3 separate regions of the Homo sapiens genome follow, and regions 1 and 2 are each linked to region 3. Evidence: fine-mapped expression QTL. A gene starts in region 3. Each other region holds a variant in brackets. All regions are shown on one strand. Distances are from middle to middle.

Region 1 (10,208 bases), 48 kb after region 3:
TCTACAGGTACTGCCCCAGTCTGCCCAGGGCACCTTCCCTCCTGCTTAGAAATCTCAGGGACCTGGCCAGGGTGGGAGGCAGCGGAGGCCCGGGAGCAGGCATAGCAACTGGGCCTTGTGGGGTTATTCTGGTTTAAGCTGCAGAAGGCCTGTCGGTGGGCCCGTCTACCTCATCAGTGCCATCTCCATGCAGTGGACATTCTGGGCTATCACAGCATCTCCGTGTAGCTGAGGAACTGAAGCAAGACTTCATTCCTCCCCTCTTCTTTTTTTCTTTTTTTTTGAGACGGGGTCTCGCTCTGTCACTCTGTCGCCCAGGCTGGAGTGCAGTCGCGCGATCTCGGCTCACTGCAAGCTCCGCCTCCTGGGTTCACGCCATTCTCCTGCCTCAGCCTCCCAAGTAGCTGGGACTACAGGCACCCACCACCACGCCTGGCTAATTTTTAGTAGAGACGGGGTTTCACCGTGTTAGCCAGGATGGTCTCAATCTCCTGACCTCATGATCTGCCCGCCTCAGCCTCCCAAAGTGCTGGGATTACAGGCGTGAGCCACTGTGCCCGGCCTCCTCCCCTCTTCTTACCACATCCCTTCCCTACCCTCTGTCCTCTTGCGGGGGAAGACTTCGCATCTCCTCTGCCTTGTTCTCCTTGGGAATCTGGGAACTGCCAAGCCAGTACAAGGCCAGAAAGCATCTCTCACTATCTTCTTTCCTTTGCCTCTCAAAGCTTCCCCAACAAGCAGAAATCAGCTGAGCCTTCACCCACCGTAATGAGCACGTCCCTGGGCAGCAACCTTTCTGAACTCGACCGCCTGCTGCTGGAACTGAACGCTGTACAGCATAACCCGCCAGGCTTCCCTGCAGGTAGGACCGGGTCCCTGGGGCAGGGTCTACCAGGGCCCAGGGCCCATCTGCTGACCTCTAGATCCCAGGAGGGCTCAAGGGCTGAGCAGCCTTTTTCTCTCCTCTCTGCAAGATGAGGCCAACTCAAGCCCCCCGCTTCCTGGGGCCCTGAGCCCCCTCTATGGTGTCCCAGAGACTAACAGCCCCTTGGGAGGCAAAGCTGGGCCCCTGACGAAAGAGAAGCCTAAGCGGAATGGGGGCCGGGGCCTGGAGGACGTGCGGCCCAGTGTGGAGAGTCTCTTGGATGAACTGGAGAGCTCCGTGCCCAGCCCCGTGTGAGTACCCACTGGGCCCTCCCCAGGTGGGGAAGGGCTGGCCCAGCCTGCCCCGGGTCCAGTGTCTGTCCCCTTAGCCCTGGTATCACCCACTCCCTCCCGTGTCTGCCATTTGCCAGGCACTGGGGGGATAGTGGTGAGTCACATGGACACCATCCCTGCCTTCAGCCAGTCACTGCCAGTCAGAAAGGACAGACGTTGTGCAGGCTGAGGGCGCCTGGAGCTTAGCAGCTCTTAGCACAGGCTTTGGGGCCACACAGTGGGGTTCACATCTTGGCTCTGACAGTTACTGTCAGCTCTCAAGCCTTAGTTTTCCCATCTGTAAAATGGGACAAGAACTTATGGGATCACTGGGATAAGACCACCTACCTCAGTAAGGGTGAGAACCAGTAATCCATGTAAAGCGCTTGGAATGGTTTCTGGTGTGTAGTGCGTGGCACACATGGTGAGTGCCCAACACGCGAGCTCTTACCAGTGCCGTCGTGTTACTGCAGTAGCCTCACCTCCATGTCCAGTGTTGTGGAGGAAACACAGGGCGCTTGGGCTTGTTTCGCAGGCCAGCTTTCACTTGGGCTGGGGGCTAGAGGAGTCTTCCTGGCACTTCCTGGTGCCATTGAACTGCCCTTTCTTCTGACCCAGTGATGGGTCCCCAGGAGAGACAGGGAGCTGGTGGACCTCCCTGGGGTTGGGGATGGTGAGACCCCAGTGTCCGAGGTGAGAGGTCGATCTGATCCCCGGGAAGTGTGGGGCTGACTGTGGGCTCCCCACTGATGCTGTGCCCACCCTGCAGCCCTGCCATCACTGTGAACCAGGGCGAGATGAGCAGCCCGCAGCGCGTCACCTCCACCCAACAGCAGACACGCATCTCGGCCTCCTCTGCCACCAGGGAGCTGGACGAGCTGATGGCTTCGCTGTCGGATTTCAAGGTGCCCTGTGAACCCTCCATCTTCCCTGCCCTGCCGCCCCTCCCTCATCCTTCTCCTCCCTTACCTCAGTGTGGGTAGCTGGATCTTGGCATCTCAGTGTTTGGGTGCCTTGCCCCTGAGCCAGGGACACTGTCATGCCCTGGCCTTGCTGTGATGCCAGGAGATGGGGAGGGAGGGCCGGGTCAGCCTGCCTGAGGATTGCAGTAGCCAGTGAAGGCAGACAAGCTGGAGAAGTGCTCAGCTGGGACATTCCTTCCTCCCTGGGTGCTCCCAGCCTCTCAGGTCGAGGGGATCAGGAGGCTGGGACGCTGGGACAAAGAACCTTGTGTTGATGGCTGCTCTGGGTGGGGGAGGGCATTCTCTGCTGGGCCATGTGGGACTTGGGAGCCTGTGCCTGGGAGGTCATTTGCCCTGGAGCCCCATCTCCCACGCTAGCTGTCCTCAACACATCCTCTTTCTTTCTGCCTCTGATCCTGAATCCACAAGCCTCCCTTGCTACTCTTCTCCCATCCTTCCCTCTCGCCCTCCAGGGCCTCTGAGTTCCCACGAGCGTGTCTGTGGGAAACCATGGGGCCAGGCTTGCACGAGGTACCTGCCCTTCCCCTCCCCTGCTGGGCCTCCCCAGTCCTGCCAGGCCTGAGATGTTTAATTTAGAGGATTCAGTGTTTCCTTGGGGATTGATATTGACAGAACTCACCAGCAGCTGCTGACTTCATACTTCCACGTGGGTCAGCTGGAGACCTTTGGGGCATGACCTAGGGAATATGAGAGGGGAGTGAACGGTCCCTGCACCCTTGGCCCTGATGGTGTCTCCTAGCCTCCCTTCAGCTGAGGTTTCATGGTGGGAGACAGGAGTGTGGCTGGGGTGGAGGGTTGAGCCTGGCCCTGTGACCCTTGCGTGCTATAGTTCCAGCTCCAGGCCAGTGGTTCTGAGCAGCCATGGTCAGAAGCAAGTAAGTTGGATTCAGGGCCTGGCCTGAGGGAGCTGTGCCCCGGTGCTTTTAAGGCTGCCGTTTTCTCAGACAGCCTGTGTCCTGATGCCAGGAGAAGCAGCAGTGGTTTTAGTCAGATCCCTGGAGCAAGGATGTGGAAGACGTAGAGGACTTGGGGTGTAGGAAAGCTGGGATTGTCCGGAGGGACATGGCCGAGTTGGGCCAGTGTCCGAGGCGGGTTCAGCAGCCCCTGGGGCTGGCTCTCCCTCCATTTGTGCCTGGGGCTGTCTTCCGTAGCCACCTGGCTCCCCATTTGTCCACCTTACCGTGGTCTTTTCTTTCTCATACCCTCCCTGGGTGGCTCCACAGGCACGGCTTGGTGGCTGCTTTCTCTTGCTTGGGTTTGGTGAGGGCTAAGCACGCAAAGCCCAGGGAAGCTTTTTTGGGGTCTGGGTCTCCTTCAAGGGTCAGTCCTGTGCGTCAGCTTTGCAGCCACCTTGGTCAGCCCTAAGGCCGAGCCCACCGCCTGCAAGGTGCAGCCGTCCTCACTCCCCTCATCTCTCTCTCTCCTCTCCCCTCTGCATTTCTCTCTTCTCCAGACCAGCTCCTCCACTGTGGCTCTGAGTGCCCCGGGGCTGTCCAGCTCTGCTCCGTCCTCATACTGCTCCCTTCCTCCTTCTCCTCCTCCCATGCCATCTGTATTTCTGCCACCCACCACTATACCCTCCCCTCGAGGCCAGGGCCACACTCCGGAGTTCCCTTGTACTGAGCAGAGTGGACGAGGCCTTCTACCTCCTGTAGCCCCCAGCTGGCTTGATTTGGCTGGTCTTGGGGTGATGCCTGACACCTTCAACTCAAGGTCTCCCTCTGTGGAGGGTTCTCTGTGGGCAGTGGGCACAGAGAGTCAGGGTCGAGATTGGAGGCACCTGCCGACCATCACAAGTGAGCTCTCTGGGGCTCCCCGCTGCCACACTGTACCCTGTGCTGGGAGCACAGCTCTCCAAGAGCCTGGGGAGCCCCAGGGGCCACCAGCCAGCCCTTCGTGCCCAGAGGAGGCCTTGGCTGCCACATGGGAGCAGCCATGGGCTTCGGAGGTATTCGGGCCTGAGAGAATGCCCCCCTCTGGAGCTGCTCGAAGCTTCCAAGAAGTAACAGAGCCAGCTGTAGTGGCAGTGGACCGGCAGGCCATCTTCCCAGATACCTGGACTCTCACGGAGGAACATGGCCTACAGCAGGAGAGGCCAAGGCCAGAGCCAGGGAGGCTGGGAAGCAGCTCCCCTGCCTCAGTTACCACGGAGCAGCTAGGTGCAAAGATGACCGAGAGGGGAAGTGTGGCCAGGCCAACCCAGGGACCTGAAACCCCAAGGAGCCCAGAGGGCACCACGGAAGCTGCCACCCAGGACGGGAAGGAACAGCCAGAGCTTCCATGTGCCATGGCCATGGGCACACCCAGCACCACGGAGAGGATTTCCACCTCTGGCCAGGCAGGCACCAGCTCGCATGGCTGCTGGGCATGGCCATTGGCGGGTCTGAGTGTGGGCCGCTCCTCGCTAACTGCATGCAGCCTCCCACTCTGCGCATGTCTGCTTGGGCAGAAAATGCTGAGACACTGTGGCCGGACCTGACAGTCAGCACTTGGCAGTGGGCTCTGTGGACCCAGCATTTCTCATAGCGTCAACCCACCTCTTGCCTTGTTGAGGCTTTTTCCTTTCAGATGAGCTGTCCTTGACATTCTGATGTGGTGAAATGGTTAGCAGCATGGACTTTGGAACCAGATAGACCTAGATACAAACCACATGTCTAACACTTGCTACCTCTGTGACCTTGGGCAACCCCCTCCCTCAGCCTCAGTTTTCTCATCTGTAAAGTGGGGAGAATTTCCATCAAGATTGTCCGGAGACCTAAATGAGATAATTCCTGGAAAGTGTTTAGAACACAGCATGTGGTCCCTCAATAGGCCGTGGCTGACAGTACTTTTATTACTTGCTTTTTGCTTAAATTAAAACTTTATGCCGGGCCAGGTGTGGTGGCTCACGCCTGTAATCCCAGCACTTTGGGAGGCCGAGGCGGGCGGATCACCTGAGGTTGGGAGTTCGAGGCCAGCCTGACCAACATGGAGAAACCCCATCTCTACTAAAGATACAAAAAGATTAGCTGGGCATGGTGGCGCATGCCTGTAATCCCAGCTACTCAGGAGGCTGAGGCAGGAGAATCACTTGAACCCAGGACGCAGAGGTTGCGGTGAGCCAAGATCATACCATTGCACTCCAGCCTGGGCAACAAGAGTGAAACTTGGTCTCAAAAAACAAAAACAAAACAACAACAACAACAAAAAACTTTATGCCTCACCCTGGCACAGTAGCTTATACCTGTAATCCTAGCACTTTGGGAGGCTGAGGCAAGAGGATCGCTTGAGCCCAGGAGTTTGAGACCAGCCTAGGCAACACAGTGAAACCCTGTCTCTACAAAAAATTAAAGATTAGCTGGGCGTGGTTGCACATGCCTATAGTCCCAGCTGCTGGGGAGGCTAAAGCAGGAGGATGGCTTTAGCCCAGGAGTTTGAGGCTGCAGTGAGTTGTGATCGCACCACTGCATTCAGCCTGAGCAACAGATCAAGACACTGTCTCAAAAAAAAAAAAAAAAAAAAATCCCCCAAGCTTTATGCCTCTTTGGAAAACAAAACGAAACAACCAAAAACCCCCAAAACACTACCAACAAGTATAATAGCATAATATAATATTAGCATAATAATATAAATAAGAAAAAAAAAACTAGTTAAAAAAGTTCCTGGCTAGCTGAGCACGGTGGCTCACACCTGTATTCCCAGCACTTTGGGAGGCCGAGGCAGGCAGATCACGAGGTCAGGAGTTTGAGACCAGCCGAACCAACATGATGAAACCCCATCTCTACTAAAAAAAAAAACAAAAAACAACAACAACAAAAATTAGCCAGGCGTGGTGGTGCATGCCTTTAATCCCAGCTACTCAGGAGGCTGAGGCAGGAGAATCTCTTGAACCCAGGAGGCGGAGGTTGCAGTGAGACCAGAT[C/T]GCGCCACTGCATTCCAGCCTGGGCGACAGAGCGAGACTCTGTCCCCCCCCAAAAAAAAGTTCCTGGAAGGAAACACTTTTTCTATTATAAATTAAAAAAAAGAAAAAAGAAAAAGCCGTATGCCTTGTCAAGGGCATGCACTTACATCCTCTGGAATAATTCTTGTGCAAACCCTGTGCGGTAAGCCAAGAAAATCTTGTGGTTCCATTTTAAGGAAGGGGAAGCTGAGGCCCATGGCAATTAAGTGTCTTGCCCAAGGTCAGTGGCCAACTTAGAGGTGAATGCTGGGTCAGAGGTCTCGCTCGCAGCCTGTGCTTCTGGAGCCAGTCCGATCTGCCCCCTCCCCTTGCCTCTACCCACCTCCACCGGTCCAATCTGCCCCCTCCCCGTGCCTCCACCCACCTCCGCTTGGTTCTTTGGTGGTTTTCTTTTGTGCTCCCTCTCCTGAGGCATCTGAGTGTGGCCTGAGCAGCGTTGTGCAAGCTGGGAGTGGGACGGTGACAGCCTCCCCTCCCCCTCCCCCTAGATCCGATCTGTGATCAGGAGGAGCTGGGAGTCTGGCCACGCACACCCCATGTCCCGGGAGCCCTCCCCTCGCCGCCGGCTGGACCCTGCCACCTTGAGCAGGACCCCATCCCAGGAACAGCTCATCGCGGAGCTGCAGGGGCGGCTGGGCATCCAGCCTGAGGCAGAGGAGCCGGCGGAGGCGGCGGGGCCCTCTGCCCAGGACTGGCTGACCGAGGGCGTCATCATCACTGTGCAGCCACGTGGGAAGCGGGCCGGGGGGCAGCTCGTAGAGAAGGTGGCGAGGAGATGCCCATGGCTGGGGCTGGGCCAGAGCCAAGCACCTGGGGTCCGGGTTCTTCCCTGGCCCCAGTGCTGGCCGGAGGGGAGATCTGGGGAGAGGGTGGGGGTTTCTTGCCTCCTGTGACTTTGGAAGACTGGCCCCACTCTTGGTGCAGAGTGGGAAGGCCCAGGGGGAGCCTGGGGAGGTCCCGCCACCCCTGTGGGCTGAGCTGGCGATTTCTTCCTCATCGCTCTCCCTCCTTTCTTCTCCCCAGGTTGTCTTCCCTCCTGGCTCTCCCATTCCCCTGAGAAGAACCATCTCTGTCCTGGCTTCTCCTTCTGTCCCTTTGCTCCAGCATCGCACAGACGCCGCGGCCAGCAGCTCTTCTCCCCTGCCCAGCCTGCTCGCCTCCTCCCCCCTGGGGCCCTCAGCTTATACCTGTGGTTCTTCTGGGGTCCAGAGTGCAGGGGAAGAGCCCCATGATGAGGGGGTGCAGGGCCCTGCCCTTCCCATTCCTGCACCCCACACCATGAGGTCCGTGGGCTGCCAGACTGATGAGGACCCGCTCTTCCCCCCGATGCAGGCAGGCCTTAAAGGAGCCCCTCCCTTTCTGTCCCCTGTCCTAATGCCTGAGCCATCCCCCACTCTGCACACACACACGTGCACACACACATACACAGATACCCTCCATCCCTCCATCTACAAGCCCCAGCACAGTAACCACAGTCCTGCCGTAAACCTTGACCCCGGTCTTCCCCCACTCAGAAGGTCCGCTGCCCTCTTGCTTTTCTGTGGGTCCACCCATGTCTGCTCCTTCCTCGACTGGTCCTCAGTACTGCCCCGGGCTCCCATCGAGGAAAGAAGCCACTCCAGAAGGGAGACCAGAAACCTGTCTCCTCCCTTCCAGCCCCCAGGCCCAGCGCCCGGTGAGGCCTCATCACTGAGCCCGGCCACCTCCCCTTGCCATTTCCTCTGCCTTTGGTCGACTCCCCTCCCTGTCCTTCTTCCTTTCTCCCTAGGCCTCTCTCTCAGGGCTCTTTTTCTCCAGATTTTTTCCCCCAATTTTGGTCCTGCCGGTGGGGGAGAAACCCTCAGATCTCATCCTAGATTCCCTTTTAGTCCAGTGACAAGGTCTTGTATTCTTTCTTAATTTTTAAAAAAGATTTCTTACCCTCATCTCTTCCCCTATCTAAGATCCAGGGCCTGGAGCAAAGAGCGGATGGGGAGCGGTGCTGGGCGGCCGGCTGGCCTCGGGACGGCGGGCGGAGCAGCCCCGGAGGGCAGGACGAGGGAGGGGTCAGTGCCAAGGCTGGGCTGGGTGTCCTGCGTGTCGTGCTCTCCCTGGGCTTGGCCATGCCTGCTGGGTGCCCTCAGCCTTTCCGACCCTGGTGGGCCCCTCCGACCACCAGGAGTCCTGCTGACGTCACTCCCACTTTAGGGCTCCTGGCCCCTGGAGGAGGTTGTACTTCTTGTCTCCATCAGCTCATCTGTCCAGGAGGGAGAAAAGTACCCCCATCCCTGTGCTGCCAGACACCGTACCCCGAGCCTCAGGAGTCCTGACCAGCCCCCTCCGTGTCCACAGTTCATGGCCCAGGGGAAGACAGGGAGCAGCTCACCCCCTGGGGGGCCCCCGAAGCCCGGGAGCCAGCTGGACAGCATGCTGGGGAGCCTGCAGTCTGACCTGAACAAGCTGGGGGTCGCCACAGTCGCCAAAGGAGTCTGCGGGGCCTGCAAGAAGCCCATCGCCGGGCAGGTGATGAGGGGGAGTGGGCAGGGGTGTGGCCAGTGGACTCCTGCAGGGGTGGGGGTGCTCCGGGGCTGGCCTTGGCCCTGGACCGCATTCCATCTCCTCCTCAGGTTGTGACCGCCATGGGGAAGACGTGGCACCCCGAGCACTTCGTCTGCACCCACTGCCAGGAGGAGATCGGATCCCGGAACTTCTTCGAGCGGGATGGACAGCCCTACTGTGAAAAGGACTACCACAACCTCTTCTCCCCGCGCTGCTACTACTGCAACGGCCCCATCCTGGATGTGAGTTCCTCATCCGGCACCGCGCCCGCTTCCGCTCATTCCAGCTTCACCGCAGCCCTCTGAGGATGCAGGGGGTGCCGTGGGAGGCTCAGAGAGGTCACATGCCCGAGGCTCACAGGGCTAGGGAACAGTGGGGCCGGATTCACAGCCACACCTGAACCACAGCCTGTCCCGATGTGCATCGGGCAGCCCCACCTCCCTTCACCTCCCATCTCGATTCCTTTCTGTGGAGACTCCCAGGACTCAGGAGCCCTGAGGAGATAAATGGAGTTGGATGCCAGCGGCCTCACTCTCCCTCTCTGTGAACTTAGGAAATGCCTGGCCTCTCTGAGCCTATGTTTCTTCACTTATAAAATGGGAGTCATAGAACTTGTGCCCTCTACTTGGGGTGAGGAGTAGAGGAGAGGGTATGTGTCTGGCTTGTCCCATCCTGAGTAACTCTGAATTCTTAGAGGCATTCACAGCACAATTAGGAGAGACCCCCATCTTGGGAGTGTTTTGCTCTGTCTATGGCTATGAGCTGCGGGTGGAAGGACGGCCTTGCTGGGCGTCTCAGTTGTGAGATCTGCCCAGAGCTCAGCCTTGATCCCACATTTTGCTTTCACAGAAAGTGGTGACAGCCCTTGACCGGACGTGGCACCCTGAACACTTCTTCTGTGCACAGTGTGGAGCCTTCTTTGGTCCCGAAGGTACGGGCTGGACCGGCGGACTGACCCACCGCCTCTTAGGAGGGCCGGGGAGGTGGGGGTGGGAGACGCTGCTGAGGTTGGAGTCAGAGTGGCTCCACTTCTGGAAGCCGGAATGAACTGTGCCTCCAAAACCCCCGCTCCCCAGGGTTCCACGAGAAGGACGGCAAGGCCTACTGTCGCAAGGACTACTTCGACATGTTCGCACCCAAGTGTGGCGGCTGCGCCCGGGCCATCCTGGAGAACTATATCTCAGCCCTCAACACGCTGTGGCATCCTGAGTGCTTTGTGTGCCGGGTAAGGAGCCCCTGACCACATCTGGAGGGGCGAGGAGCAGGCAGTGGGGAGAGAGGGGTCTTCCTCATTGTGCTGTCTGGATCCAACTCAGAGGCCTCATTTGGGGTTATTAATTGGGGGAGCAGGCAGGGGATCTCCTTCCTCCAGTCCAGTAGGTCCTGGGCCAGGGTTTGTACTGAGGCTGGGACAAACCAGGAGCAAGGTAGACATGTCCCCCAGTCCAGCCCTGTGCAGCGGCCCTGGGCCATTCCTATTTGGGAGGAGAGTGTGTGAGAACTAAATGAGATAATGCAAGTATTTAGCAGACTCAACAGAAATGGGCAGT
Region 2 (10,208 bases), 36 kb after region 3:
TAGGCAGTGAGTTGGAGGCGCCTGGGCTCAGCTGATGTTCTCCAAGGAGGACTTGGAATGAACCCGAGACACAAAGGGTGAGGTCAGTGGTTTGCTCAGCAAGAAGGCTGAGTTAGTGACAACCTGTCACAGCTCCCAGGATCCCTGGCTGCAGTCCCTGGCTCCGACTCCTCCCCCTGCTGGCCTTAAGGGAGATGAAAATCAGTGATGTGGATCTATTGACTGAGTGTCTCCTGTGTGTCAGAGTGGGAGGCTTACGTTTATTTTATCCCAGCCACCAGGATGGCTCTCACATTCTTTTTCATCCATTACTCACTGTGCGCTATGAGGTGCCTGAGTAAACTAAAGCCCAGAATTATCTAGTCACTGGTCACCCAGGCTAGTGAGTGGCGGATTTGAACCCATCCTCCTCACTGTTAGATGGCCCATTCCTTCCACTCTACCACACTGCCATGCAGGTGGGATGCCCAGAGGGTGTCCAAAGAACTGTGTGACCATCCTAGCTCCCAACGACAGCAGACCAGCCAAATCTGTGATATGGGCAGGGGTGGTTTTATGTGTGGACAGTGGGGGCTTTGTGGTGCTGCTTAAAATTGTTTGCCAAAGTCCCCAAGAGCAAAATCTTATCTGTTTTTTTTGTTTTGTTTTTTTGAGACAGAGTCTTACTCTGTCGCCCAGGCTGGAGTGCAGTGGCGCAATCTCTGTTCACTGCAACTTCTGCCTCCTGGGTTTAAGCCATTCTCCTGCCTCAGCCTCCCAAGAGGCTGGGATTACAGGCATGCACCACCATGCTCAACTAAATTTTGTATTTTTAGTAGAGTAGAGATGAGGTTTCACCATGTTGGCCAGGCCAACATGGTTTCGAACTCCTGGCCTCAAGCAATCTCCCTGTCTCGGCCTCCCAAAGTGCTGGGATTACAAGCATAAGCCACCATGCAGGCCTTGAAGCCTCTCTTTTTATCTTACGATTTCACTTGCATTTTGCATTTGACTCCATAATGTAGCCTTGTTTGTTTTAAGACAATGATTTACATTTCTTGCCCCTGAGTACATTTGATCCTCAGAGTGTTCTGGGTTTATCCTGAGGTGGCTTCCTGTACCCCTGGCTTCCATCTGTCCCCTGGGGGTATGGATATCCTTGTGCGAGAGGCTCAAACCAGGTGAATGATGATAGAGGTAGTGGTGGGACACATTCAGTATTGTGAAGAAAGGCACGCTGGCAAAAAGGGAAGCGGGGAGTCCAGTTTGGCTGGAGACATGGGTTGCAGTGAGGGGGACCAAGGAGGCAGTGAAGGTTAGTTTGGGGCCATATTCTGAGAGGGTCAAGAACAGAATGCCATCCCCAGGGTTTCTGACCTTGTTTTATAGGCAGAGAGGGCAACAGTGGGTGAGTATTATAACTCCACCCCTTGCTCTGCACACATTCATTCAAGCCCCTCTAAGAGGCCTGTGAGGGCCGGGCACAGTGGCTTATGCTTGTAATCCCAGCACTTTGGAATGCCGAGGTGGGTGGATCACTTGAAGTCAGGAGTTCGAGACAAGCCTGTCCAACAATGTGAAACTTCGACTCTACTAAGAAAATACAAAAATTAGCCAGGTGTGGTGTGTACCTGTAGTTCCAGCTACTTGGGAGACTGAGGCAGGAGGATCATTTGAACCCGGGAGGTGGAGGCTGCAGTGAGCTGAGATCATGCCACTGCACTCCAGCCTGGTTGACAGAGCAAGACTCCATTTCAAAAAAAAAGGAGGCCTATGAGGGTATCCATGCTGTGGGGATTCAGGAGCAGGAGGATGTTCTTGCCCACAGAGGACCTGCAGTCTAGGGGGAGAAGCAAGAGTGAAGTGTGAGGCATGCCCCAAAAAGGCTGGGTGCCAAGAAGTTCGGGCCGATGGTGTGTGCAGGAAGCGTTAGATTGGGAGAACCCAGGGCAGGGGGCTGCAGTCAAGTTCAGGTAGGCACTGAGCATGGATTCGAATGCTAGTCCAAGTGGTTGGCTGTGGTGATGAAAGGAAAGGGAGGCAAGTGATGACAGGGAGAGGCCCCGCGAAGGAAGAATTGATGTGACTTAGTGACCAGCTAAATGTGGGAGCTATTAAAGGGACTTAGAAAAGAGAACTGGGGAAGTCAGGCAAGCGAGAGCTGACTTCGGGAAATGACCTTGCTGCCTGAAAAAAGGGGAAGGTGCTGGCTGGTTAGTGAGAACCTGATTAGCAAAGAGTGGGTAACTAATGCTATGAAATCCACAAAAATCGCAAAAAAACTGCAGCTCATCTCAGGAACAGGCAAACTTTTGAACTTTTTGTTCGGGTCTCTGTGGGACGATGACTCACTTTGAGCCCCTCCTAACCTCTGTTGGTGATTAGCAGGGGTGAGAGGCCCAAGGAGCCGCCCTGCTCTGCAACAGATCAACTTGCCTGGAAGAGCCCAGATTGCAGGAATGGGCTGGGGTCGATTTGGAACAGCTGAGAACCTTTCCAGCCCATGAGTCTCCTGGGTTTGAGGCTGTCTTTTTTGTATGTGAATCTGGGTTTTACCCATTGAAGGAGCTGTGAGTTGGGCCTGGAATGGGGCCCTGGACTTGACCTGAAAAGGTCTAGCATCTCTGGGCGACCTAAAGAGGTGGATGACATCTGACCAATGAAATGTGTCCACAATGTTCTGGGACCTCTGGAGGAGGGAGGGCCCACTGATTCTGGACAGGAGAGATGAGTTATTTACAATATGAAAGAGACTCTGGGGATGGGCATGGTGGCTCCTGTCTGTAATCTCAGCACTTTGGGAAGGCCCAGGCAGGAAGATGGCTTGAGGCCAGGAGTTCAAGACCAGCTTGGGCAACATAGTGAGACCCTGTCTCTACAAAAAAGTTTTTAAAAGCCTAGTGTGGTGGCATGTGCTTTTAGTCCTAGCTACTCGGGAGGCTGAGGCAGGAAGATCCCTTGAGCCCAAGAATTCTAGGCTGCAATGAGCTGTGATCAGGCCTCTAGCCTGAGTGGCAGAACAAGACTTGTCTCAAAAAAAGAAAAAAAGAAGAGAAAGACTCTGGTGTTTGGCCAGCCTGGCCTGAACTCCTGTGTCTGTAGCCTAAGGCAGATGCATAGAAGTGCTCAGAGTCAACCTGGGCAGCCTTGTCTCACCTGCTGTTGCTTAAGCTCCTGGAGCCCAATTTGATGGGGAAGTGGCTGCAGCCAGGAGCCTGATGGGTGGGCCTTGTGTGTGCCTGGTGCAGATGGGCCTGGCACAGTTGGTCTTCTGCCTGGAGCTCAGGGTGACTGCTGGAGTTGCCTTGCAGCCATTATTTTCTCAGGTCTCTGGTTACCTGTGCCCTGTGACCTTGGGCACAAGCCAGGCAGCCAATAAAGCCAGTCTGTCTGCACACTCATATTGTGTCACCCTCTGCAAGGAAGAGCTCCTCAGCATACAGGAAGCCACCCTCCTAAGCTAGGCCTGTAGGAAGCCTGGGGAAGAACCACTTCATCCAAATGACCACCCCCTCCTCCCCTGGCGGCTGACTGGAAGACTCCTGGGCCTTCTCCCCTGGCTTCCTGTGTGTCACCCCCCAGCCCACACTTCCTTCAGGGCTGTAAGGGTAAAATGCAGTTCCTGTTGAGTGAGGCATGAGTCAGCGGAGGAGAATTGGTGGCTGAGTCTTTGTAACCTCCAGGCATGGCTATTAAATATTTAAATGACACTATGGTATTGATCGTTTCTCATCCATCCTCTTAGCAGAGCAGTTCCTGTCTGGGATTCAGATAATAGCAGAATCTTGGATTTAGACTAACTCGGAAGAGCTCAAAGGTGCTATATAAATCTCACCCATAATTGTATTATCTCCTCAGAGCATGCTACTAGGAATGGGGACAAATCGGGTTCTGCCCATTTTCTTGATAGAGAAGACATCCAGAGAGGTTAGAGGATCCGCTGAGGGGCCCCCACTCATCCGCTGGGCCTGGGATCAGGGCATCCTGGCTCCCCTCCTCCGCACTGGCTGTTTGCTCTGCTCACTGCTGCTTCCCCATCCTCCTCCTCTTCACAGCCCCTCTGTCATTCAGCCATTCATTCTAGCTGCTGGGGATATGGCATCGAACAAGACCGACAAGGCCCCTGCTCTCTGGAGCTTAATTCTTGGAGAGGAGACAGTTGACAAGAACCCAAATTGGCAGGGAAGGCCCCTCAAGGAGACTGAGTTCCTAGTCAGTGTCCAGGCCCTAGGTCCCTGGGCTGGGGGTGGGTGGGGCAGAGTGGATCTGGCCTAATTGTGGATTGGCCCTTACTGAGGACAGACGGTTATCAGGATAAATATACCCAGCTCACCATTCCTGGGGACTTA[C/T]TCACCGAGTGAAAGCACCCCGCTGCGGATTAGATTACCTCTGCTCTAACTGCTCATGTGCTCTGGGCTGGGGGAGGGGAGGGGAACTTGGAGCCAGGGGGAGGGGGGAGACCCGCCTTCCCGTTCTGTTTTCCTTCCTAATCTGGAAGAGTCTCACCAAAGGGGCTGAGATGAGACCATCCCTGAGCTGGTCCTGCTGTTTACATAGCTCCTTCCTTAGGAAGGGCCAAGCCCTGCTCACTGCTTATATCCCTGAGCGTGGGCAACTGTAAGGAGGCCGCAGCTTCTCTGACACTCAGAGCTACCAAGGCTGCCCAGGTGGTCATCAGGGGGTTGGGAACCTCCCTTGTCCAGAGTTCTGGACCCAACAGGATAGACAGGCCATGAGGCTGGGCATCCCCAGACCCCCTAGGACAGGGACTTGTTTCTCTGGGAGTCTGGGTTTCCTATCAGATGGCAGGGATGGACAGCTGGCCCAGGGCTGCGGGGAAGGCCCCTGTGCTATGGCAGCCCGTTGCTGCTGGTGCTGGAGCTTTCAGGGCGGTGCTTGCTGCTCCTTCCTTTGGCTTGTCAGCTCCTAAGGAAGCTGCACTGGCCGCTCCCTGCCTGGGGCAATGAAAGCTGAGTGAAATTGGCCTGCAGAAGAAGGTGGGTGAAGGGGCTGGAAAATACCTTGTTCTTACGTGGGCCTCTCCTGGGCCAGGCCTCGAGAATGCAAGGCGTGCTAAGGTGGGGCGCTGCCTGAGGGCCACAGGACTATACCTCTTCTAGTTCTGCCTGGGGCTGCTGGTGGAGGAGTCCAGAATGGCAAAGGTGGGCAGGGACCACGGGGCCCTGGCGCTGGGGCTGGTGTGGCAGGGCAGCCTGTAAACTCCAAGAAGGGATGGAAAAGCTGGCTCCATGCCCCACATTTACCTGCTTCCTGCTGATCTGGGACTAGAGGGCAGCACCCTTTGCCCTCAGGGATTGGATAGGACGGGGAGGTGATTTCTTTCCCCTCCTAGGGCTTAACACCTCCCTGGGAAGAAGCTTGTAATCTATTTAGCAACTCCCATTTCCTGTGTGCTGTATTCCAGGCACTGTGCTAAGTCAGCACTTTATATCTTTTTCTCATGTAGTCCCAATCCTGTGAGTAAAATGGTGGAATTCCTATTGGGCAGACAAGGAAACTGAGGCACAAAAGCAGTTAAGCAGCCTATCCGAGCAGTTCAGCCATTGAGCAGAGCCCAGGTGACTGAGGATTCACCGTACAAGTTGTAACACTGAAAGTCCTCAGAGCCTGGGAGGAGAGAATGGAATCGCTCTGGGTCCTCCCACCCCCTCAGAGAGATGGACTTTTATCTCCTCTCTCTTGGCACCTGTCCAGCTCCAGGCCTCTGGTCTTGATAGTCTTTATCACACACTAAGAAGTGGCAGGGGCTTAGGTAGGAGGAAGCAGCCTGGCTTGTTTCTGTGCTGCAGTCGGGGGTGGGGGCGGAAGGTTTTAATTGATTCTCTTTAATCTGATATTGAGTGCCATGCGTCAGTGGATCAACCGGGGTCCCCAGAGCCACAGTCTGGGGGACATCCCCCCATTGTAGGTACAAGGGGACCCAGGTTTCCTTCCACCCGGAGCCCCTAGGTGGGTACAGGAATGTGAGGGATGCAGCTGCAGCACTTGCCCTGGAATGCAGGCGAACCGGTCCCCTCCTCCTCGGAGCAGTGGGCTGAGGGTGTCTGTACCTTAACCCTCCAGCGGCTCCCACCGGTTGTAAGGATTACGCTCAGTCAGTTGCTGAGGCCCAGGGAAGGGCTTCTTCCTCTCAGCCTGGCCGTAGTGCACTGTTTCTGCCCAGCCACCTGCCCCAGGGCGGCCTCCCGACCCAAAGCTGCAGCTGTTCCATGCTGTTGCTCCGACCAGGTGCAGCCATGGGGTGCAGATAGGGGCGCACACGGTGCTGCATTTGCACAGGGCCCTGGAAGCGAGGGCGTGCACCCCTCTGGTTCTCCAGAGCCCTGCATGTCACCCTTGGGTTGTGCCTTCAAGTGATACCAGGCTACCTGTGTTCCTCCCACTAGCTTGCTGTGTTCCTCCAGCTCAGCCTTGTTCTCTAAGGATAGAAACTTCCCCACTGCGCCCATGGCCAGGGGCTCCCCAGTCTTCCCCGGCTAGAAAATTGCAAGATTGCACGAGGTTACCCAGTGGCAAGAAGCTGACGGGCCAATGGTGCCCTCTGGTGGGGAGCAGCAGACAGTCTGCACCCCTTCCTCACCAGGGCGGAGCCAGGACATAGCTCCGTGGCCTTTGCCCATGGCTCGCTGGGGACTTTGCACCTAGCCTGCCCTCAGCCTCGAGACAGCCTGGCCTACCTCCTCATGTTGCATACTTCCGCTGGCCCAGAGAGACAGAAAACCTGCAGAATTCAGGGTGGGTTTCCTCCAGAAAGTGGTTGGGAAGCCCCAGAGAGAGAGCTTCCTCCTTCAGGGTGACTTGGGTCTGGAGGGCCCCAGGCCTGGACCTGGAAACTTAGTAGAGTAATGCCAAGGAAATTTGAGGCCTTTCTTAGCTTGAATGAGGTCTCCCGACTACTTCCGAGCAGCGTGTCTGGAATCTGTCCTCCCAGCATGTGGGAAGGGAGGGTGTATTCCTGGTCTTGAATGGTTTCAGTGGGTACCATTTTCTCTGAAGAGTGGATAGCCTGACACCTTCTTTGGGGTATGAGGAGCAGGAATATTTAGAGCAGAGGGAAAGGCTGGAGCCGGACACTGGGGGACCCCGCTGGGATGGGGCTCTGCCTTCAAGTGGACTCCTTCCTGTGTGCAGTGTCTGCCAGCTCTGTTTGCTCAAGCCAGGGGGGACGTTTGCTGAGCTTGCAAGGGGACTCTGACCCTTAACCATTTTGCAGCCTATGGGGAAGTCTCAGGTATTTGCACCCATTGGAAATCAAAGTAAAGCTAGGAGTCTACTGTTGGCTTGCCTCCTGTATTTCTGGTTTTCTTTCTTGAGGAGTTTGTGGGGGGTTTGGAGGCACCAACCCCTACCCCTCTTGCCTAGTCCTTGCCTGTCCAAATCACTAGGTGAGAATGAAGGGTGGAGAGAGAGGAGGAAGCCATACCAGAGACCCTGTGGCTGGTGGATGGACTTGCTGGGGTTTTTCTCTGTCCCTCAAATAGACAAAACTTTGGAGAAAACTGAATAATGATGTGCCTTCTCCCTGACATCTGCACTCTATGATTTGTTCGTTTGTTTTTAAGACAGGGTCTTGCTCTGTCACCCCGGCTAGAGTGCAGTGGTGCAATTGTAGCTCACTGTAGTCTTGACCTCCTGGGCTCAAGCAATCCTCCTGCCTCAGCCTCCTGAGTAATTGGGACTACAGGCGCATATCACCACACCCAGCTAATTTTTAAATTTTTTGTAGAGATGGGGTTTCACTGTGTTGCCCAAGCCGATCTCCAACTCCTGTTCTCAAGTGATCCTCCCACCTCAGCCTCCTGAATAGCTGGGACTATAGGCATGCGCCACCACACCCAGCTAATTTTTAAATTTTTTGTAGAGACAGGCTCTCACTGTTTTGCCCAGGCTGGGACATGCTACAATTTGAATGTTACTTTATTACTTTTCTTTTCTTTTCAAGGTTGCCCTTTTCATGGTTTGCTCATATTCTACCCAGAAAAGACTTAGGAGACTTAGAAGAAGTTAGTACTTTGCATCCTACCTACACTGCTCTCCTTGGAGGAAGACCTTATTCTGGATTTTACAGAGCAAATCAGATCTGATGTTTGTAGCTTCCAATGTGCTATGGAGCTTCCTCCTGCAGAGTGACTTGGGTCTGGAGAGCCTGATATTTGCAACTGATGTCTGCAGCTTCCAGTGTACCTGCTAGCCCTTATAAACCTCACACCAGTACTTTGAGGTCAGAGTTATTCAAGAGCTTACTGAGACAACAGGCCCTGAGAAGCTAAGCGATTTGCCCTGTGGCATGGATGGTAGAGAGGGGAGCTGGCACTTGAACTCAGGTCTGGCTCGACCTCAGAATGAGTGATCTTGTGTCTCTGTGCCCCAGGACTGCATCCTCTCACCAATACTTCACCAGCCTAGGGATCTGTGCTCCCAAGAGCCTGTTGACATTGTAAACCTGAATCCAATCCATAAACCAAAAGCCCAGGCTTAGAATCACATTGTGGTGGAGCGGGTGTTTGGTGGAGTCCCTGATTCAAAATGTTTGACAAGGAAGCCTGACCATTTGTCTTCTGTTGGGTGTTTGGAGTCCAAGAGACCTGAGATCAGAGTCCAGCATTGTCACTTCATCCAGCCTTGGCAGTGTGGGATGTGACTCTGCCTCTGAACCGCAGTTATACCATCTGTGCTGGTGGCGTTGTGAGGATGGCAGGTAACAAAGGTGAAGCTCCTGGCCCCAGTGGGCCTTCAAGGATGGCAGCTGCTCCTGCCCCCTACTGGGGTTGCACTCATTCGTTGCCTGCTCTGGGGAGTCCTATGGGGTTTCTTAGCTGGCCCTGCCCATGGTGGAGAAAGAGGGATCCACCCATTGCTGATTGGGCCCAGAGGAAATGAGGACACTGCGTGAAGCCAAGACAGCAGGTGTGGCCCTGGAGAGGCCGTGGGGATTGGCCTGGACACTGGTTCCTTTTCTGCCGTTACCTAGATACCTACCAACTCCCTCTAGTTCCGGTTTGCTAGAGACAGGAAGCCAGGCCTCCTCCATGGGACCCGGAGGGCGGGGCGGGCTGTAGGACCTGAACTTCCTTGGAGGTCAGGCGACCAGACCCGGGGTCCTGGGCCTTGGAACAGACATCCCCTCTGTCCATCTGGGCAGGAGCATGGGGTAGGTGTGGCCAGCCTTGAGGGTAGGAGATCAGGACAGGCAGCTGGGACAAGGTGTGGCCCCATAGACCGAGGCCCTGGGTGAGGGCCTTGCTTCTCTATTCCCTCCTCTGAACACAGGTTGGGGGACTGGGAGCAAGGCCACAAGGAAGGATCACACTGGCAGGCCTCACAGCTTGGGCCTCCAACATTCAGGAAGTTGAACCCTTTAAGTATGGCATCATCTGGTAGTCATAGTGGCCTCTTACAGGCCAGGTTTTTGGGGTTTGGGGCTTCTGAGGAGTCAGACAATTGTGCCACTCACTGGCTTTGTTATTTGGAGCAAACACCTCTGACCTCTGCCTCTCCAAGCCCGGCTTTCCTCATCGCTTCGGGGAGAATCATTTCCAGCTACAGGGGGTATTAGGGGGATTAACGGAGACCTCGTACATGCTGCTAGAATGCCTAGCAGTCTGCCTGCTACTGATAAGTGGCAATAAACGCAGCCATTGCTTTTTAGATGTTTATTATCCTGAGGGCTAGGGATCAAGCTGTCAGCTCCCTGGACCCAGCAGGTTACCGGGGAGCTGAGAGCAAGCAAGTTGTGAACGGGGCAGGAATGAGGGTGTGGCATCCAGGGCCAGGCTGTCTGAGCCGTGGGGCTGTTGAGGGTCCCAGGAGGGGATGGAGGAAGTGGGGGTCAGCAGGTCCTACTCCTGCCCTTCTATACCCTTCTTTTCTGGAGACTGGGGAGACCTAGTGCCCCCCTGTTGGCTGCCAGGTGCCAGGGTAATGGAAGCTTACACTAGAGGGCTGATTTGGCTCCCTTGCCGCTGTTAAAAGCAGAACAGTGGGGGCCTGGAGCCTCTGGGGCCGGGCTGCTTGCCAGACTTCCGCAGAAACAGCCAATGGAGCAGTCTTGCCCCCTGCTCACTGAGGGGGTGGGGACCGCTGCACCAGCCTCACTCCAGCCCCCACCTCCCCGCACACCTTACCCCATAAGCCTAGAGCCTCAGGAGGAACCTGGAGCCTGGGCTTCTGCTTCCACCTGGTTAGGAGGGCAGGGACCATCCTGAGTG
Region 3 (10,208 bases):
CTGTACCGTTCAATGCAGTAGCCGCTAGCCACATGTGACTACTGAGTACTTAAAATGTGGCTAGCTGGGCCGGATGCAGTGGCTCATGACTGTAATCCCAACACTTTGGGAGGTAGAGGTGGGCAGATGGCTTGAGCCCAGGAGTTCAAGACCAGCCTGGGCAACATGGCAAAATCTCATCTCTACTAAAAATAAAAAATATTAGCCAGGTGCGGTGACATGTGCCTGTAGTCCCAGTTACCCAGGAGACAGAGATGGGAGGATCACTTAAGCCTGGGAGATTGAGGCTGCAGTGAGCCTCAGTCTCACCACTCTACTCCGGCATGGACAACAGAGTGAGACCCTGTCTCAAAAAAAAAAAAAAGAAAAGAAAAGAAATGTGGCTATTTGGATTGAGATGTGCTGTAAGTGTAAAATACACATTGGATCTTGAAGACTTCATACAAAAAAGAGTAAGATATCTCACTGATATTTTGTTATATTGATTACAAGTTGAAATGATAACATTTAGGATTTTTTTTTTTTTTTTTGAGACAGAATCTTGCTCTGTCGCCAGGCTAGAGTGCAGTGGTGGGATCTCAGCTCACTGCAACCTCTGACTCCCTGGTTCAAGTGAGTCTCCTGCCTCAGCCTCCCGAGTAGCTGGGATTACAGGCACGTGCCACCAGCTAATTTTTGTATTTTTAGTAGAGATGGGGTTTCACCATGGCCAGGATGGTCTTGATCTCCTGACCTTGTGATCCTCCCGCCTTGGCCTCCCAAAGTGCTGGGATTACAGGTGTGAGCCACCATGCCCAGCCAACACTGAGGATATATTGAATTAAATAAAATATATTATTAACATTAATTTTATCTATTTTATTTATTTATTTTGAGATGGAGTCTCACTCTGTCCCCCAGGCTGGAGTGCAGTGGTGTGATCTTGGCTCACTGCAAACTCCACCTCCCAGGTTCAAGCGATTCTCCTGCCTCAGCCTCTGGAGTAGCTGAGATTATAGGTGCCCACCACCATGCCCGGCTAATTTTTGTGTTTTTAGTAGACCAGGCTGTTAGCCAGGCTGGTCTTGAACTCCTGACCTCAGGTTGTTTGCTCACCTCGGCCTCCTAAAGTGCTGGGATTACAGGCATGAGCCGCCGTGCCCGGCCATATATTTTTTTATTTTTTATTTTTTGAGATGGAGTTCTGCTCTTGTAAGCCAGGCTGGATCTTGGCCCACTGCAACTTCCGCCTCCCGGGTTCAAGCGATTCTCCTGACTCAGCCTCCCAAGTAGCTGGGATTACAGGCATGTGCCACCACACCTAGCTAATTTTGTATATTTAGTAGAGATGGGGTTTCACCATGTTGGTCAGGCTGGTCTCAAACTCTTGACCTGAGGTAATCCACCCATCTTGGCCTCCCAAAGTGCTGGGATTACAGGCATGAGCCACCGTGCCTGGCCTGTTTCTTTTATTTTTTTAAAGATATTTTTTAGAGAGGAGGTCTTGCTAGTTTCCCAGTTTGGACTCAAACTCCTAAACTCAAGCAATCCTCCTGCCTCAGTATCCCATGTAGGTGGGACTACAGGCATATGCCATTGCACTTGGCTAAAAAAGTTTTGATTGGGCCGGGCGCGGCGGCTCACACATGCAATCCCAGCACTTTGGGAGGTGAGGCAGGTGGGATCACCTGAGGTCAGGAGTTCAAGACCAGCCTGGCCCACATGGTGAAACCCCATCTCTACTTAAAGAAATGCAAAAATTGGCCAGGCGCGGTGGCTCACGCCTGTAATCCCAGCACTTTGAGAGGCCGAGATGGGCGGATCACGAGGTCAGGAGATCGAGACCATCCTAGCTAACACGGTGAAACCCCGTCTCTACTAAAAATAGAAAAAATTAGCTGGGCGTGGTGGCGGGCGCCTGTAGTCCCAGCTACTTGGGAGGCTGAGGCAGGAGAATGGCATGAACCTGGGAGGCAGAGCGTGCAGTGAGCCGAGATCGCGCCACCGCACTCCAGCCTGGGCGACAGAGCAAGACTCCGTCTCAAAAAAAAAAAAAAAAACAAAAACAAAAATTAGTCGGGTGTGATAGCGGGTGCCTGTAATCCTAGCTACTCAGGAGGCTGAGGCAGGAGAATCACTTGAACCCGGGAGGCAGAGGTTGCAGTGAGCTGAGATCATGCCGCTGCACTCCACCCTGGGCGACAGAGTGAGACTCTGTCTCAAAAAAAAGAAAGAAAAAAAAGAAAAGTTTTGATTGCATATCCGGCTTGCATTCTGTTTCTTTTCTCTCTCTTTCTTTCCTTCCTTCCTTCCTTCCATCCTTCCTTCCTTCCTTTCTTCCTTCCTTCCTTCTTTCTTTCTTTGTTTTTTTTTTTGACAGAGTCTCACTCTGTCGCGCAGGCAGGAGTGCAGTGGCACAGTCTCGACTCACTGCAACCTCCGTCTCCTGGGTTCAGGTGATTCTCCTGCCTCAGCCTCCTGAGCAGCTGGAATTACCGGTGCACACCACTATGCCCAGCTAATTTATATATTTTTAGTAGAGATGGTGTTTCGCCATGTCGGCCAGGCTGGTCTCGAACTCCTGACCTCAAGTGATCCGCCCGCCTTGGCCTTCCAAAGTGCTGGGATTACAGGTGTGAGCCTGGTCGAGTTCTGTTTCTATTGCTGAGTGAAGAGTGTTATTTTGTGGTGACAAGGACCATTCTAAGTACTAGGTGTGTCGTTTCTTATTTAGTCCTATGAGGACTCTGAGAGGTAGCTACTATTAACCTTTCTATAGGGGAAGAAACTGAGGCACAGAGTAAATTGCCCAAGATGAACCACTAGCAAGAAGTCAGCAGGGTTGTCCATCTGCTCTGTCAATGTCGTTTAATCTTTAGGAAGAATGAAAAAACCTGATTGATTTTATCAAATGCAAGGGACTGAATGTTCATATCCTTGAAAATTCATATGTTGAAATCTAATCTCAATTCGATAGTGTTAGGAGGTGAGGCCTGACAGGTGATTAGGTCATGAGGGCAGGGCCCTCATGAAAGAGATTAGTTAGTGCCTTTATTAAAGGGACCCTCTTTGAGCCGTGTGAGGGTACAAAAAGTCAACAGTCTGCAACCCAGAAGAGGGCCCTCACCAGAACCTGACTGTGCTGGCACCCTGATCTTGAACTTTCAGCCTCCAAAACTGTGAAAAAATAATTTCTGTTGTTTATAAGTCACTCGGTCTACAGTATTTTGTTGTAGCAGCCTGAACTAGACACCAAGTTTAATTGCTGTGGGGTGAGAGTCCAAGGGAAGAAGGAAGCCAGGGAGGAAATGGGGGTTTAGGAATGATTTACATGAGGAAATCCCTGGCAGGGACCTGAGTGTTCGAGTGCACCAGCACTCAACTCTGAAGCTTCAGTTCTCTTTAGAACTCTGCATAGCAATGGGAAACTTGCCCATTCAATGGGTGCCTCGCATTTCCAGACCACACAGCTTTGAAAAAGAAAGGTTTTAGACCTTTGGAGAAGTGGACAAGCGTATGCCCTGGGGTTGGTCTAAGTTGTTAGCAGTTTCACTTAGCCGTTTCATAACCAGGCCTTGGCATAAGCCTCCCCAGGTTCAAATCTCAGTTTCCTTACTTATTAGCTGTATGACCTGGAGTAATTCAACCTCTGACTCTCAACTCTTCCAGCTGTAAAAGGGGCTAACAATGCTCATCTCCTAGGCTTGTGGTCAGTATTAAATGTCTTGTCTACAGACCTTTGCACATGCTGTTCCACACAGCTGGGAGTGGGGCGAGGCTACTCATCCTTCATGCTAACCACTTTGCTCTTTTGCGTGCACCTTTAGATTCAAGAAGGTAGACATCATGTTAGTCTTATTCATCATCCCAGCCTACGCAACAAAGCAAGACTGTGTCTTAAAAACACAAAAACAGGCTGGGCGTGGTGGCTCACACCTGTAATCCCAGCACTTTGGGAGGCTGAGGGGGGCGGATCACCTGAAGTCAGGAGTTCAAGACCAGCCTGGCCAACATGGTGAAACCCTGTCTCTACTAAAAATACAAAAATTAGCCAGGCATGGTAGTACACGCCTGTAATCCCACCAGGAGGCAGGAGATCACCTGAGATCAGGAGTTCAAGACCAGCCTGGCCAACATGGTGAAACCCCATCTCTACTAAAAATACAAAAATTAGCCAGGCATGGTGGTATGCGCCTGTAATCCCAGCAGGAGGCAGGAGAATCACTTGAACCTGGGAGGCGGAGGTTGCAGTGAGCTGAGATTGCACCACTGCACTCCAACCTGGGCGACAGATTGGGACTCCATCTCAAACAAAAACAAAAACACAAAAACTAAAACAAAATAGAGGTATGTGCAAGATGCTGGAAAACCACGCAATAGAGTGTTTGAGGAACAGTCTTTGGTCTTGAATTTATTATAGGAGAATGTGGCAGCCACAGAAGCTGCTTGGATCTGCCTTTATAAAATGACTGAACATGGTGGGAGCATTGGAACCCGGATACTTCTGCCCAAGGAGACTTCTCATTTTTTTTGTCCTGGAATTCCCTGATGGGTTGACCTGTTTGTCAGATCTGAGTCTCCTTGCCCAACCCTGCTTATTTCCCCTTCTCTGTCACGGGCATTACCCCTAGCTTTATCTCAGCATCTCATCTGCTTTCTGGAGGACCTGATCTGACCCAGAAGGCCTGGATTCTTGAGGGACAAGGGGAACTCGAAGCTGTACTTGCAGAGCAGTTTTATATAAAATCCACAAACTGCCATCACCCATCCCAACGGGTAGGGAAGTACCTCTAGGAGGATTAATTTAGAGAATAGCTATATAGTGTCTGTCTATTCAGACACTCAATAAATGGTAGTTGTTATTATTACCCAATTTCCGAGTGTGTGGGAGCACTGGGTGTGACTTTCCTGTAGTTTTCCCTTTAATGTCTAATCTGGGGACCCCTCTGCCCCATGCAGTTTTGGAAAAGTGTCTAGGGAGGGTGGCTGTGTGGAAGTAATATTAAGAGAGATGGAACCACACAGGTATTGGGTTTGGGCCAGAAAGGGTGAACTGCGAGCTGCACTGCCATTGATCCAGAGGACGACCCCAGGAAAGGTCAGCCACGGGCTCCGGGCCTTGCCTGGTACTGATTTATGGTCCTCCTGGGTGGTGACCTACAGGTGACAGACGGACAGGTGGGCAAAACTGACTGTCCAGTGGACAGGCATGTGATGACCCAGTGGCTGACGAATGCACAGACACATGGCTGACTGTGGACGGATTTGTCATCCGCAGGGTCAGGCAAGTGACTTTGAGAGGGACAGAAAGATGGATGGGAGTGGCTGGAGGCCTGGGAGCCGCCCACCTGCCCGCTTAGCCGCGAGGGGGCGCCACCGCCCCGCCCAGCGACGCCCACTGCCCGGGCTCTTGGCGGGGGCGGGACCAGCGTGCGCAGGGGGCGGGGCCAGCAAGCTCGCGGGGGTGTCCGGGGGCGGGGCGCGCGTGCACAGGGGGCGGCCGGGGGCGGGGCGCGCGGCGGGCGCGGGCGCGGGCGCGCGCGGCGGCGGCGCGTTCCGTTCCGGGCCGAGGCTCGCGGCGGAAAAGTTGCGGGGCATAGACGAGCGGCCCCGGGACGGGCAGCTAGCGCGACCCTGAGCCGGCGCCCGTGGTCCGGCCATGGACGACCTCGGTGAGTGAGCGGGAGGCCGAGGGAGGAGGAGGCGAGAGGCGCGCAGCTTGGGGCCAGGAGGGCGCCAGCGAGCGGCAGGGGCCGCGGGATCCCACCCTCGGCGGCCCCGGCCTCAGCTCCTGTCCCTGCCGGCCGGGGCTCCGCGGGGCTGGGATCCCTAACCGGGCCTTAGTCTCGGGCCAGGCCGGCCCCGGCACCGACCGCACAGCAGCGACCCCCCGTCTGGGACGGCTTCACCTCTGGACCCCCGACCTCGGGGACCCATCACCATCTCCCAGAAGGGCCCCAGGGACCAGCCCGCCCCTCAGGGACCCACCCCGTCCGCTGCAGGGACGAGACTTCCTGCGGCAGACCACCTCGTCAGCTACGGGACCCTCACCTCGCAGACCTCTCCCCACCCCCACCTCACAGATCGACCGCCCAACTCGGGGAGCAGCTGCCCGATCTCATGGGCTGCTCCCTCATTTCCTCGACCTGCTCCCCGTCCCTCCAGGGCCGCCCCCCACTTCACAGACTAGCACCCCCCTTCAGGGATAACCCCTCGGAGCCCACCCCTTTCATTTCACAAGTCAGATGCAAAAGCTAGAGATGAGCGTGTGATGACCACACCCCCATTTCAAAGACAAGTTTCCCAGTCTGCCTGCTCTTCTGACCCCCCACTTCAAATCTGGTCACCCCGTTTCAAGGACCCATCACTCATTTTCTCTCACTGACCTCCCCGCTCTGTGGACCAGCCCCTCAATTCACAGACCAGTCCGTCTACCATGGTATCTAAGTCTAGAACGGTAATTTGGGAGTCCTGATTCTCTCCCCACCCCTAGATTCTGGTGAAATGCCAGGGGAATGAGGTGGAAGGTGGGCCCCAAGGTATGACCATCCCTGAACGTGTCCTGGCTAGCAGAGTCCCCTCCACCCTCTCTGCGTCAGGCCCTGCTGGAAGCCACGCAGGTGAAAGAGGACAGGATGCCCAGAACAGAGTTTTACTGTTTTCCTGTTATTGGAGCCCCAAGGCTACTCTTTTCAGTCCAGTCTTGATCTGGTGTTAGGGGAAAGAAAGTATCTCCTGGAAGCCGACTCTAAACCCAAGGGGGTTGGTGCCAGGGTTCTAGGAATGCCTTGGGTGGCGTGAACGCAGGAGTGGGAGGATTCGCTGTCTCTCCCTCCCCTTCACGCCTGTAGCTGGAGGGCCCTGAGCTTGGGAGGTGAGGAGGGGGGCAACGTTTCTTCTCTGCAGGAGCCTTGTCTTTCCTCTCTGGACTGTGGGTGGCTTGTGTGACCACTGATGCTTCCTCTGTCCCAGGCTCTGAGGAGTAGATTCAGCAGACAGGACTGATGGACCTCTACCAAGCAGCGCCGGGCACTAAGTTAAGACTGGCTATTTGTAGGTGCTGGACTTGACTGCTTCCCTCCAGCTTCCTTTTGGGATCAGGGTGCCCCTGAGATCCTGGAGCTGGGGTTGGTGTAGGGTCCTGCCTGTTTTGCAGAGTGAGATGGCTGCCAAGCGTGGTTCTGCCTTTGGGTCAGGCTTGGCACCCATTTTTCCAGTGTGCTCAAGGTTGGCATGGCTTCCAGGCAGGTATTTTTTTTTTTCACATAAAAATAGCTCAGCTGGAAGGAGGCTGGGGGATGTTCTTTGAACCAGGATCTAAGAGTCTGAGTGCTTTCCCAGTGGGAACTGGGAGCAAAGTTACAGTTTCTAAAGTGCTGGTGCAGTTCTGTTGCTTCTCGGCAGTCCCCGTGCTGTTTCAAGGACTGAGAAAGTCTTTGTAGAGCTCGCCATCGAAATCTGGAATTCCTGTCTTCTGACAGTCTTCCATTTAGGGCCAGGAAACTGAGTTCTGAAAGGAAAGAGAGTACTGTATACGGGAGAGGGGATTGTAGGGATTTAAATTGCTGTTTGTGGAGTACTTCCCTCTACCTCGATTTGTGATATCCTCACAACAACCCTTTTATCAGATTCCACCTTAAAGCCAATGCTGTCATGACCACCTGCCTTTTTACAGATTGAGAAAGCCGAGACGAAGAGAGGCTGATTCTCTTGCCCAAGGCTGCACAGCCATGAAATGACAAAACCATAACTGGAAGCCCAATTCCTAGCTCCCAGATCTGTGGCTCTTGTATACCGAGAAGACTTTTTTTCCTGGGGAGGAGGCAAGGGCACTTGAAGGAGGGGTTGCCACTGGGTGATGGCGATCACCTGTAACTTCTACTGCTTTCTACCATAGACTCCCAGTTGCTTACATCCGGGCTGCCCGACTTCCTTGGCCTGAGCTCCCAAGGGGCAAGCCACGCCTGACTGACCGGAGCCTGGGGTGGGAGGAATGGGGTGTGCAGGAGGGGAGAGGAATTTGCCTTTGCACTGGGGCCCCGTCAGCTGTCTGGATGGCGGCTCAGCACACTGCCATCAGCTGTTTTCCTTAGGGTGGCTCAGCTGTTTTCCTTAGGGTGGACACAAAGCCCAGACCTCTTGTTTTTATTTTTCTCCTGAGCGTGCTCTCAGCCGTGTGCCTCCTGGTCCCTAACACAGGGGAGAGTTTATGGTGTGTCCGGTAGCAAGGCCAGAGGGTGCATCACCTCCTCTGTGACTTTGTTTTTTGGTCTAATAAAAAATGGGGAACTCTTCTCCTTCCCATAGTTGCCAATGACAGACTCACCATGTGCTGCTTAATAAGTTACAAATTTATAGCTCTCTGAGCAGAAAAATATCAACACAGCGTGTTCTGCCCTTCCCTGTGTGTTCTCTCCACTTTGTTCTTTGGGGTGGCTGCTTGGTGGCTTTTCTTATTACTGTTTAGATGCTGGTTTGGCCCAGAGTTCGCTCTGTTCAAGTTCTGGCCGGAGTTTCCTGGACAGAGTTCCCACAACACTGAGATGCACTCTGACTGTGTTTTCTAACCCGATTGCTTGCTCTTCCTCTGTTCATGTTCTCAGTGTACTTGGTGGGGGCTTTGACCACAACTGTGGTCTAATCATGATCATGTGCGCTTCATGGGAGACAGGCACTGTACTCAGCACTTTACGAGCTGTATCACAACCTTTCAGAAAGGGAGGTGTTTTCGCTCCACTTTATACATGTGGAAACCTGAGCTCAGGGAAGTTTAGTGGTAGTGCTGGGATTTGAACCCAGGCTCATCCAATTCCAGATCCGGTTATCTTAATCATCATAAGGTGGTAGGTGCTGGTGACTAACCAGGGGGATGAGCCTTGGGGCCTGCTGAGTAATTGATAGTTACCTTTAACAATCTCTGCCCTAGGGGCCCATCCCAGGAAATGGCAAAGGGTGTGTCCAGTGCAAGACTGGGTAGCTTTGCCTTCCCATCCTCTAGCAGGGGGAACAGCCAGCTGTTGGCAGTGCCCAGTTGCTGCTGGAATCTGGACATGTCTTCTTTCAGCTTCTCAGCAGTCTTGACCCTTTGGAAAACAGTGCCTCATTGTCCTTGGGGGTAGTGCTAGGGGGGCAGAGGAGTTGCCTGGGGCATTGGGAGCTATGGAGCCTCCCTGTTTCCATGGAAAGTCTGGACTTTGGGCTTTCCTGTCTGTGGTCCCTCTGTGTGTTAGGGCAGAGTCAGGGCACCCAGCTGCTGGGCGTGTGGCAGAGGCGGCATTTACCCATGCAGCGATAGTGCCCTCCTGGTGGGCTCTGCATCAGTGCCAGACCTTCTCCTGGGCTTGTGCTAGTAAGGGGCAGAGCTGGGATTCAAACCTTGGTGGGTTTGATTCTTCAGCGGGTACACTTTCTGATATGTGAAGCTGTCTGCTGCCTGGGCAGACATAGCTTGATGGAGAAATGCTCAGCCTACTGGAACCCAAAGCCCTGTCACTATAGGTTCAAGGTCTTTTGAGGGAATATCTCAGTATTCCTTTTTTCCAGCTTCCCTAGTGATGGTCATGCATTGAAGAGACTGGGTGTACCCTTGGCTGGAGAGGCTGATGGAAGGCCAGAGTTATTGGTGGGCCACTGAGCAGCCCTCCTCTCCTATTTAGTCATCCTGCTTGGAGTATCTGACTCTGAAGCTTCTCTTGCGTCTTTACCTCGCTCCAGAGATGTTGAATAAACTTCCAGCCTCATTGCAGCCTTTCCGGGGATCATCCTAGTCTCAGTGCCTTCATTAATAATAACAAAATCTGCCGGGCATGGTGGCTCACACCTGTAATCCCAGCACTTTGGGAGGCTGAAGTGGGTGCATCTTTTGAGGTCAGGAGTTCAAGACCAGCCTGGCCAATGTGGTGAAACCCAATCTCTACTAAAAATACAAAAATTAGCTGGGCGTGGTGGCGCGTGCCTGTAGTCTCAGCTACTCAGGAGGCTGAGGCAGGAGAATCGCTTGAACCCGGGAGGCAGAGATTGCAGTAAGCCGAGATCGCATCACTGCACTCTGGCCTAGGGGGTACTTTTCTTTTTTACAGTGTTTACAGAACTTTTTCTCATAATATTTATTGAGCTCTTATTATGTGCAGGCACTGTGCTGGGCACTTTACATGCATTGTTTGCTTGAATCAAGCTGGCCATATGAGGCAGGTTTTATTAGTAGTCGTATTACTACTACCTGTTTTATA

What was found.
Region 1: its variant is fine-mapped to the expression of PXN in whole blood (TOPMed, PIP above 0.99).
Region 2: its variant is fine-mapped to the expression of PXN in left ventricle (GTEx, PIP 0.98).

What each region holds. Positions count from the first base shown.
Region 1 is chr12:120,213,517-120,223,724 of GRCh38, reverse strand. It overlaps PXN (paxillin), which reads left to right. Exons shown (of 15, transcript NM_001385981.1): 3 at 1-7; 4 at 726-862; 5 at 975-1,176; 6 at 1,967-2,102; 7 at 3,634-4,518; 8 at 6,609-6,884; 9 at 7,144-7,452; 10 at 8,064-8,165; 11 at 8,452-8,622; 12 at 8,727-8,900; 13 at 9,508-9,589; 14 at 9,735-9,883. LOC124903034 (a long non-coding RNA gene) reads right to left here and starts at 3,634. Exons shown (of 3, transcript XR_007063487.1): 1 at 2,800-3,634; 2 at 1-2,410. RefSeq lists an enhancer at 6,995-7,721. The variant C/T (reference allele first, on the strand shown) is at 6,082.
Region 2 is chr12:120,224,852-120,235,059 of GRCh38, reverse strand. All of the region lies in intron 1 of PXN (paxillin), which reads left to right. It overlaps LOC124903034 (a long non-coding RNA gene), which reads right to left. Exons shown (of 3, transcript XR_007063487.1): 3 at 9,639-10,208. Among named protein-coding and RNA genes, the nearest start is that of PXN-AS1, 29 kb to the right of the region's middle. RefSeq lists enhancers at 2,249-2,808, 2,809-3,368, 2,848-4,047, 4,489-5,048, 5,049-5,608 and 5 more and silencers at 4,920-5,214, 6,457-6,566, 9,520-9,814, 10,123-10,172. The variant C/T (reference allele first, on the strand shown) is at 4,329.
Region 3 is chr12:120,261,060-120,271,267 of GRCh38, reverse strand. It overlaps PXN (paxillin), which reads left to right and starts at 5,538. Exons shown (of 15, transcript NM_001385981.1): 1 at 5,538-5,651. The coding sequence starts at 5,639. RefSeq lists silencers at 5,231-5,510, 5,671-5,820.